2 separate regions of the Homo sapiens genome follow, and region 1 is linked to region 2. The links come from fine-mapping of genetic effects on gene expression. Tissue or cell type: whole blood. Region 2 holds a variant in brackets; the other region holds the start of a gene. All regions are shown on one strand. Distances are between the middles of the regions.

Evidence for each region. PIP is the estimated chance that this variant, and not a neighbour inherited with it, causes the effect.
Region 1: it holds the start of NHSL3, and the variant in region 2 is the best candidate, but not a certain one, in a credible set for the expression of NHSL3 in whole blood (TOPMed, PIP 0.50).

Annotation. Positions count from the first base shown.
Region 1 is chr1:32,740,006-32,744,235 of GRCh38, reverse strand. It overlaps NHSL3 (NHS like 3), which reads right to left and starts at 2,406. Exons shown (of 7, transcript NM_020888.3): 1 at 2,047-2,406. The coding sequence starts at 2,281.
Region 2 is chr1:33,062,947-33,067,176 of GRCh38, reverse strand. No RefSeq gene overlaps it. Among named protein-coding and RNA genes, the nearest start is that of AZIN2, 16 kb to the left of the region's middle. The variant C/T (reference allele first, on the strand shown) is at 2,257.

The DNA of each region.
Region 1 (4,230 bases), 320 kb after region 2:
CCTGCCTCTCATAGGTCTTTGAGCCAGAGATTGGAATGGAGGAGATAATGACTTCCCCAGCAAAGATCCCTGACCTCCCAGGAATCTCCTGTGTATCCCTCCTCCCCACCTCTCCCAATCTCCATTCTGAACATTCTCCCTGAAAGAGTTAAGCCTTCTGCAGGCTTCCCGTTCCTGGCCAGCGTTGCCAGTGGAGATTAGTGGGATCAGATTTATTTCTCTTAATAAACAGAAAAGAAGTTGGGCCAGGCAGGTGACAAGGAAACAGTTGCAATAATAGGAGGCTGGAGTAAAAGGGAACAGGACTTCCTCCAGTCATACCCAGGGCCACCTCCAGACCTGGAGAAACAACAGCCAGGGGCAAGGAGGTGTTACCCATGCACGTGGGCTCAAATCAGGCCGACATGCTGCCCAGAAAGCCCAGAGCCACCTGATACCAAACACAAGGCAAGAGGGAGGCCTGGCCACTGACCCAATGAACCCAAACCCAGGCTGTTGGAGCAGTGACCTACAGGCTCAGCTTTTCCAGCCCCCTGCCTTCCAGGCTGGTCTCCCAGAGGAAAAAGGTCCATTGCCCTGGAGTATACACTGCTAGTCCACTAGCCTTCTGCCTGCCAATCCTGACAGTCTGACCACAATACATCCTGCTGCAATGCCCTCTTGAATGAGACGGGGATGACTTCAGACTGAATCCCAGTGGGGCAGCCCTGGGACAGACTCCATGTCCTGTTAGGACTGCAGAGGCTTTGGAAACACCCCTCACCCAAATCCAGTCCTCCCTCAGGGTTTGGCCCAGTCACCCCAGCCCCAGCACCCTCACTTCTATGTGTGGCTGTGCCGCAGGGAAGCAGGGCCCTTATCCAAAAGGAAGATCAAGCCGGATACAATCACACATGAGGCTTTCCACCCTCTTCCTGACCCCTAAAGTGTTCCTTCTAACTCTCCCAGAAGAGGTGGTTAAAGGACACTGGGAGGGTAAACACAGGCAGAATGGGATGGGCCCGCACACCCAGCCATTTCCTCACCTCCAGCACTGCAGCAGCAGTCTAGGAAAGGTGGACTTCCCAGGACAGCAAGCCCCAAGGGAGCTCCACCCTCTTGCAAAGACTCAAGCCCTCCCCATCAAAAGGAAGACAGAAACTGGAAAATGAGGGAAGGCCCAAGAAAGGAACTGAAAATGACCCCAGCAGGGATGGGCCAGGTCGGCTTCCCCGCCTTTCAGGCTGCCCGTCCAGGCCAGAGGAGGAGCCCAGGGACTCAAATTCAGAAAGACTGAGAATTAGCTGTTGAATTTTAAGTACCCACCCCAGCCCAGGTACAGCCTCTCCACTGAGCTTGGGCCTCAGTTTCCCCCATCTGTAAGCACACTTCCGACACTGGCATGTTTCTCCAGGGCTGGAAGAAGGAGTGATAGGGAGGGGCGGGTTGGTTCACCTTGGTGAGCTCACTACCCCAGGAGGTGATGTTTGTGGCCTGGCCCAGGTGAGCGTTGAGGGAGGCCAGGTGGGAAAAGCCAGCACTGTTAAGAAGCTAAGGCAGGGCACACTGTGCTCCATGTGAGGTCCTTTGTGGGGCTGGAAATCCAGATCCAGCTGGAGCTGAAACTCTTTGTGAGTGCGGTTGACCTTCCAGACCCAGAGGGTCCCCACCAGAGACCCAAGGCCACCTGTCTCTCCCATTGGCCACAGGCCAGCGTTAAGTCTCTGACCCCCTGACTCAGCAGAGGGCAGAACCTCGGTGAGCCTGGGGGAGGGGGAATCGCCTCACCGCCCTGGAGTCGGGCTACCAGCACTTCCTGCTCTGCCAGGGGATCCCTGCCCCAGCCGGGGGTCCCCTCCCCTCACAGCGGGGCAGGACTGGGTCTGGAAACTGCGGAAGGCAGCGCAGGGTGGAAGTGTTCGGACTCAGCCCTGGCCTCTTCGCTTTCCAGCACCAGCTCCTGGGGGTCACCCCCCTCCAACACGCCGCGCGCGGACCCCCGGCAGAGCCCCCTCGGCCGCACCCTCGACGCCCCCCCGCGCTCAGCCCAGGTGCCGACCGCCTTACCTCGGCCTTTGCCCTTGGCCCTCTTGGCCTTGTCCTCCGCCTTCTTGGCCCGGGGGGCGGCCGGTTCGGCGCCCTCGGCCCCCGCCGCCTTCTTCTTGCGCCGCTTGCCCCGCAGCCAGCTGAAGGCGCGGCGGAGGCCGGACGCGCCGGAGCGGGACTTCTTCCTGCGCGGGGGGCCGCCCGGGTTCCCCGGCTCCTCGGCCGCAGGTGCGGCGGGGGGCGCGCGGGCCGCCATGGCAGGCGGGGGCGGAGCGGGCGGCGGGTCAGGCCCCCTGCGGCGCGGTGCCCATGCCGGGGGCGGCCGCCGGGGACGCGCGCCCGGAGAAAAGTTTGGGCGGCGGAGGCCGAGCGGGCGCGGAGAGCGGACGGCGGGAGCGGCGCGGGAGGGGCCGGCCGAGCGGCGGGCGGGGCGCAGGCCGGCGGGGAGGGAAGGAGCGGGGCGGGAGCGGCCGCAGGGCGGGAGCGCCGCTGCCTGCGGCCCCTCCCCGCCTCCCCCGGTCCCGGCGGAGGGCGAGGTCCAGTCCCGAGAGGAGGGGGTCCCGGGAGCCCGGGGTCGTGCCCCCCGCTGGGGCCCGAGAGGGCGGGTCGTGGGGCCGCCCGGGAGGGGGCGGCACTGAGGTTCCGTCCCGCAGGGGGCACCGCGGGAGATCTGTTCGGAAGAGGGTGGTATGGGGTGGGGACGGAAAGGGGAAGGGCGCAGGAAAGGAGGAGCGAGAGGCTGGGGTTGGACCCCAGGAGACTTGGTATCCCAAGTTTGGGCTGGGAATAGACAGGGGATTCTGGAATATTTTTTCCTGGAATAAGGGAATTTGGAGAATTCCTTCCAAGCCCCGACAGTGTTGGGGCGCTTGCGCCAGGAATAGAGGCTTCAGACACGTCCAAGACCTGTGACCCGCAGTGGGCATTTCCCTCCCATCTGCTGACTGGGGTCGCCTCCTCGCTCTTTACCACACCTTCCAGGCTCCAACCATCTTCGGTGTGCAGCGGGGGCCCAGGTCCACTGTGTTCCTGCCTCACCCTTTGGTGGCAAGATGAGGATAGCCCTTCCTCCGTTTACCCTTGGACTAGGATTTGAGGCCCCAGGGCACTCCTGCCTGGACCAGGAGTTCCCACTGAGATGCTCAACACTAATTAGGGTTGAACTCTGGGCAGGTGAGAGGTGTGACTGGGAGGCTGGTAGGAAAGGAAACATTAAGAATCCTGAAATTGCTGTACTCATTGCCTACAGGCCTCTGGGTCTATTACAGCTGACCAAGCCCTTTTATATCATCTGATCCCACGACAACGGAAATGGAGGCCAGAAGGGGACAGAGGTGGTCAGCGGGAGAGGAGCCAAGATGGTCATCTGGGTTTTGTCTCAGGCTGGTCCAAGGCTTCAAACCCTAAGGACTAGAAATTGCGCTGGGGACCAGCTGTGGGTTCAGCACCCTTGAACCTCCTCCGTCAGTCCCCAGAAGGGCCTTGTGATGTCCATACCAGTGGGGTGGCCAGAATCACCCAATCTGACTCTGGTCACACGGCTTTCTCTTGGTCCTGGTCTCCACGAGGGCAGGGGCCCATTTGTCTGGGCCACCCAGCCCAGTCAGCCCCGGCGCACTGTAGATAGCACTCACCATAACATTGCAGGATTACTAGAGTGCAGTGGGATCTCCCTAACCTGCCTTAGCCCCCTGCATGTCCCCAGGGGCTCAGCTGTGGTGAACCTGGGACATCATTGACACTCTCCCACCTGGGGGCCCTGGGGCAGACCACCCAGTGTCCATGCTGGGCCTCAGTTTCTTGTCTAACCACCATTCATTCAGATCCAGCCCACAATCCCAGAGCACCCATTCTGGATCAGGAACCAGCCCTGTACTCTGGGTGCTCTTGGCCCAGCCTAGCACTCCTAAGAACCCAGCCTCTTCCTCTGTTAGTTGGTGAGGAAAGGGAATGTAGAGAATGCAGTTTTCAAGAGAAAAGTGTTACAGGTGCCAGGCATGGTGGCTCAGGCCTGTATTCCCAGCACTTTGGGAGGCCCAGGCAAATGGATCACCTGAGGTCAGGAGTTTAAGACCAGCCAGACCAACATGGTGAAACCCGGTCTCTACTAAATACAAAAACTTAGCTGGGTGTGGTGGTGCATGCCTGTAGTCCCAGCTACTTGGGAGACTAAGGCAGGCGAATTGCTTGAACCCGGTAGGCGGA
Region 2 (4,230 bases):
AAAGTTTTCAAAGAAACTCTCTTAATTTGAACTTTTTGAGGTTGAATACGTTGTTTATCGACCACCATTCCTAAATATTGAACAGGAGTGGTCTGTTGAATTTTATCCTGAGTGATGTGTAATCCAGCCTCTGTAACACAGCGGCTTAAAATTTGATAACAGTCAATTAATTCTTTATTAGTTGGGGTAGCAATTAAAATATCATCAATATAATGAAGAATATAGGCCTGGGGAAATTGGGCTCGAACTAGTGAAAGCACTTGTCCGACATAAAGCTGGCAGATTGTAGGGCTATTCAGCATTCCCTGAGGAAGTACTTTCCATTGATAATGAGCTGCAGGCTCCTGATTATTGATAGATGGTACAGTAAAAGCAAATTTTTTACAATCCGATTTATGTAAAGCAATATGAAAAAACAATCTTTAAGACCAATAACTATGAGAGACCAATTTTTAGGTATTAAAGCAGGGGCAGGCATGCTGGGTTGGACAGCTCCCATAGGTTTAATTACAGCGTCAATGGCCCATAAATTGGTTACCATACGCCACTTGCCTGATTTCTTTTTTACTAGAAACATAGGAGAATTCCAGGGGGAAAGAGAAGGTTCCACATTTCCAAGTTGTAACTGTTCAGAAACCAATTGAATTAAAGCCTCCAGATTTTCTTTAGAAAGCAGCCACTGCTGAATCCAAACAGGTGTGTCAGATTTCCATTGTAAAGGGATAGGATCAGGAGGCATGGCAGTGGCCACCACTAAAAAGGATAATCTAAACCATTACTGTCTTATTTTATAGTAATTGGGAGGGGTTTAATAATCCCTTCATGCTTCGGACCGAGACCTAGCCCAGGAACAAACCCATGTTTTTCATCATATGCCGACCGGGAACACTATAAGAGTTATATGGAATATTAATTTTAGCCTCAGTATCTACTAGGCCCTCAAAACTTTTTTCCTTGAATGTGTATGGTGAAGGTGGGCCGTTGTTTAGAAATTGTATTAATCCAATAAGCAGCCTTTTTACCACCAGAGTCTATCCCAGAGCCACGTGTCTTATCTCCTTTGTTTAAAACGATATTAGGTAGTAAAAGCAATTGAGCCTGTTTAACAGTAGTAAAAGAAACAGGAGCTTGGCCTGGGGCACGTAATTTATCCCAAGCTCTCATACACACCTTTGTTACTTGTTTTGTGGTAGGAGCATCAAAGCCTACTTGGGCTTAAGTATCAGAGAAACTATTGGAGCCTGTGAGCTGAGCCTGAGTAGTTAGAATGCCATTAGTCTGATTTAGCTGAGCCTGAACATGGGCCTCCTCTGCCCACCAGGCTGAGATGGGGTTAGAACAGCTTTTTGCCAAAAGGTCCAAGTCTAAAGGAAGTAAAGTGACCTCCATACAAAAAGTTTGTAATACCATTTTAACATAAGGAGAAGTAGGACCATACTGACTGAGTACAAGCATCCTTAAATTCTTTTAAAAAAAGTAAGATTGAGCAGTGCATATCGACACAGACCGGTTGAGGAACCGAAACGACAGGAGGGTGAGGGGCTGTAGTGGATGGGGGAGGGCCTGGAGAATTATAGGTAAATTGTAGTTTGGTCCTGGAGCCATTTGAAGAGACAAGAATTAGCATATCTATGGTCCTGGGCTGTGTGAGTCATGGCCGCGGGAGCTTCAAGTACCAGTTCTTCATGAAAAGAAGATAAGTAGGGGGTAACTTTAAGCCAAAGTCACCAGAGTTAGACATTGAATTTTCAGCATCGTTAGGTGGGGGAGGAGTAGCCGAAGGAAGAGGCTGATCAGATAATGAAGGCCGTGTGGGAGAGGAAAGTTGAGGAGGTATTAGGATGGCACGTTCCAAGGCCTAATCACCCCAAACAGTGACGGGAACATAATTCCCTGCTGGGACCAGCTCCCAGAATGTTGAACCAACACGATCCCATACTTTTACATATACGGTTCCTTTTTCAGGAAACCAAGGACAGTATTTTTCCAACACCCTGAATAGAGTGACCATATTTTCCATGGTTACTCAGACCCTTCCCTGTTTTAACAGGTCTACATCTAAGGTTCCTTTTTCTTCTAATTTTAACGTTTCAGTATATATCACCTCCTGTAATTGATTATAGTCAACATTTTGTGTTGACCGAGCCATTACCGGCTCTGCTACATATTTACAATGTGAACTTTCCATTCCTTTTCGGGATTCTATCCCTGCCTCTTCTTCACAATCTATTACACAGCTTTCAGGGGCATCAGAAA[C/T]TGAAATGCTATCTTCTTCTGTTTGAAACAGTTCTAAAGCTACTTTAATAATGACCCAATCATTCCATATTGTAAGTGGGATGATTTTACCCTCCCTACTTGCTTGTTTTAATTCTTTGCCAATTTTTTCCCAATCTTTTAGATCTAAAGTTCCTTGTTCTAGAAACCATGGACAGAATTGTTCTATTGTTTGAAATAGCATGATTAGAGTTTTTGTAGAGACTCTAACTCCCCCTGTTTTTGAAATAATTTTAATAGAGCTAAAAGGCATATTTACTTTTAGTTTGCCCCATTGTTACCCTAGGTTCTTCCGAGCACACAAGCTTACCACAAGGCTGACTGTAGACTTACTCGGGAATCTCTCATTGACTTGTCCTCAATGACCACGCTCGAGCGTACCTTCACCCTAGAGAAAAGCCCCACGTTGGGCGCCAGATGAAGGGGTGGCCTGCCCCTCCACACCTGTGGGTGTTTCTTGTCAGGTGGGACAAGAGACTGAGAAAAGAAAGAGACACAGAGACAAAGTATAGAGAAAGAAAAGTGGGCCTAGGGGACCAGCACTCAGCATACGGAGGACCTGCTCCGGCACTGGTCTCTGAGTTCCCTCAGTATTTACTGATCATTATCTCTACCATCTCAGAGAGGGGGATGTGGCAGGACAATAGGGTAATAGTGGGGAGAGGGTCAGCAGGAAAACATGTGAACAAATGTCTCTGTGTCATAAACAAGGTTAGAAAAGGTGCTGTGCTTTGATGTGCACATACATAAACATATCTGGTGCATTAAAGAGCAGTATTGCCACCAGCATGTCTCACCTCCAGCCTTAAGGAGGTTTTTCTGTTATCTCAGTAGATGAAACATACAATCGGGTTTTACACCGAGACATTCCATTACCCAGGGATGAGCAGGAGACAGATGCCTTCCTCTTATCTCAACTGCAAAGAGGCCTTCCTCGTTTACTAATCCTCCTCAGCACAGACCTTTTATGGGTGTTGGGCTGGGGGACAGTCAGGTCTTTCCCTTCTTACGAGGCCATCTCTCAGACTATCACATGGGGAGAAACCTTGGACAATACCTGGCTTTCCTAGGCAGAGGTCCTTGCAGCCTTCTGCAGTGTATTGTGTCCTTGGGTACTTGAGATTAGAGAGTGGTGATGACTTTTAACAAGCATACTGCCTTCAAGCACTTGTTTAACAAAGCACATCCTGCATAGCCCTAAATCCATTAAACCTTGAGTCAACACAGCACATGTCTCTGCGAGCACAGGGTTGGGGGTAGGGTTACAGATTAACAGCATCTCAAGGCAGAAGAATTTTTCTTAGTACAGAACAAAATGGAGTCTCTTATGTCTACTTCTTTCTACATAGACACAGTAACAGTCTGATCTCTCTTTCTTTTCCTCACATGTTTCCTCCAGATATTCCCATGGCTCACTCTGCACAAAGCACACCCTCACTTCCTGCAAGTCTTTGTTCAAATGTCACCTTCTCAAGGAGGCCTACCCAATCACCCCTTTAAAATTTCAACCTGCCTTTCTGTGCACTGCTGTCACTCTTAATCCTCTTACCACTCTCTACTTTTTCTTCTTCGACAACACCTTTCACTTTCTAGGATACTTTAAAATTTATAGGTTAAATCTGTTTGTAATTTAAGCTCCCTAAGGACAGGAATCTTTGAACTTTTTGTTTACTGATATATCCCAAGCCCTTAAAGCAGTGCTTGGCACACAGCAGATGGTCCATAAATACCTATTGAATGAATAAATAAATGGGGTAACCCAGGGTCATAGCGAGTAAGTGGCATGGTGCTTTCATCAGACCCTATCATGGGTCAGCTACTGCTCTCAGAGCTCTTCTGTGACATCCTCTCGGGCTGCCTAGGTTCTCAATGGGCCCATCTATGACACTGCTTTATGTAGCCTCTAGCCATTGTGGGGTTGACCCAAAACAAAATTATGAGCTCTCAATTTTGCCA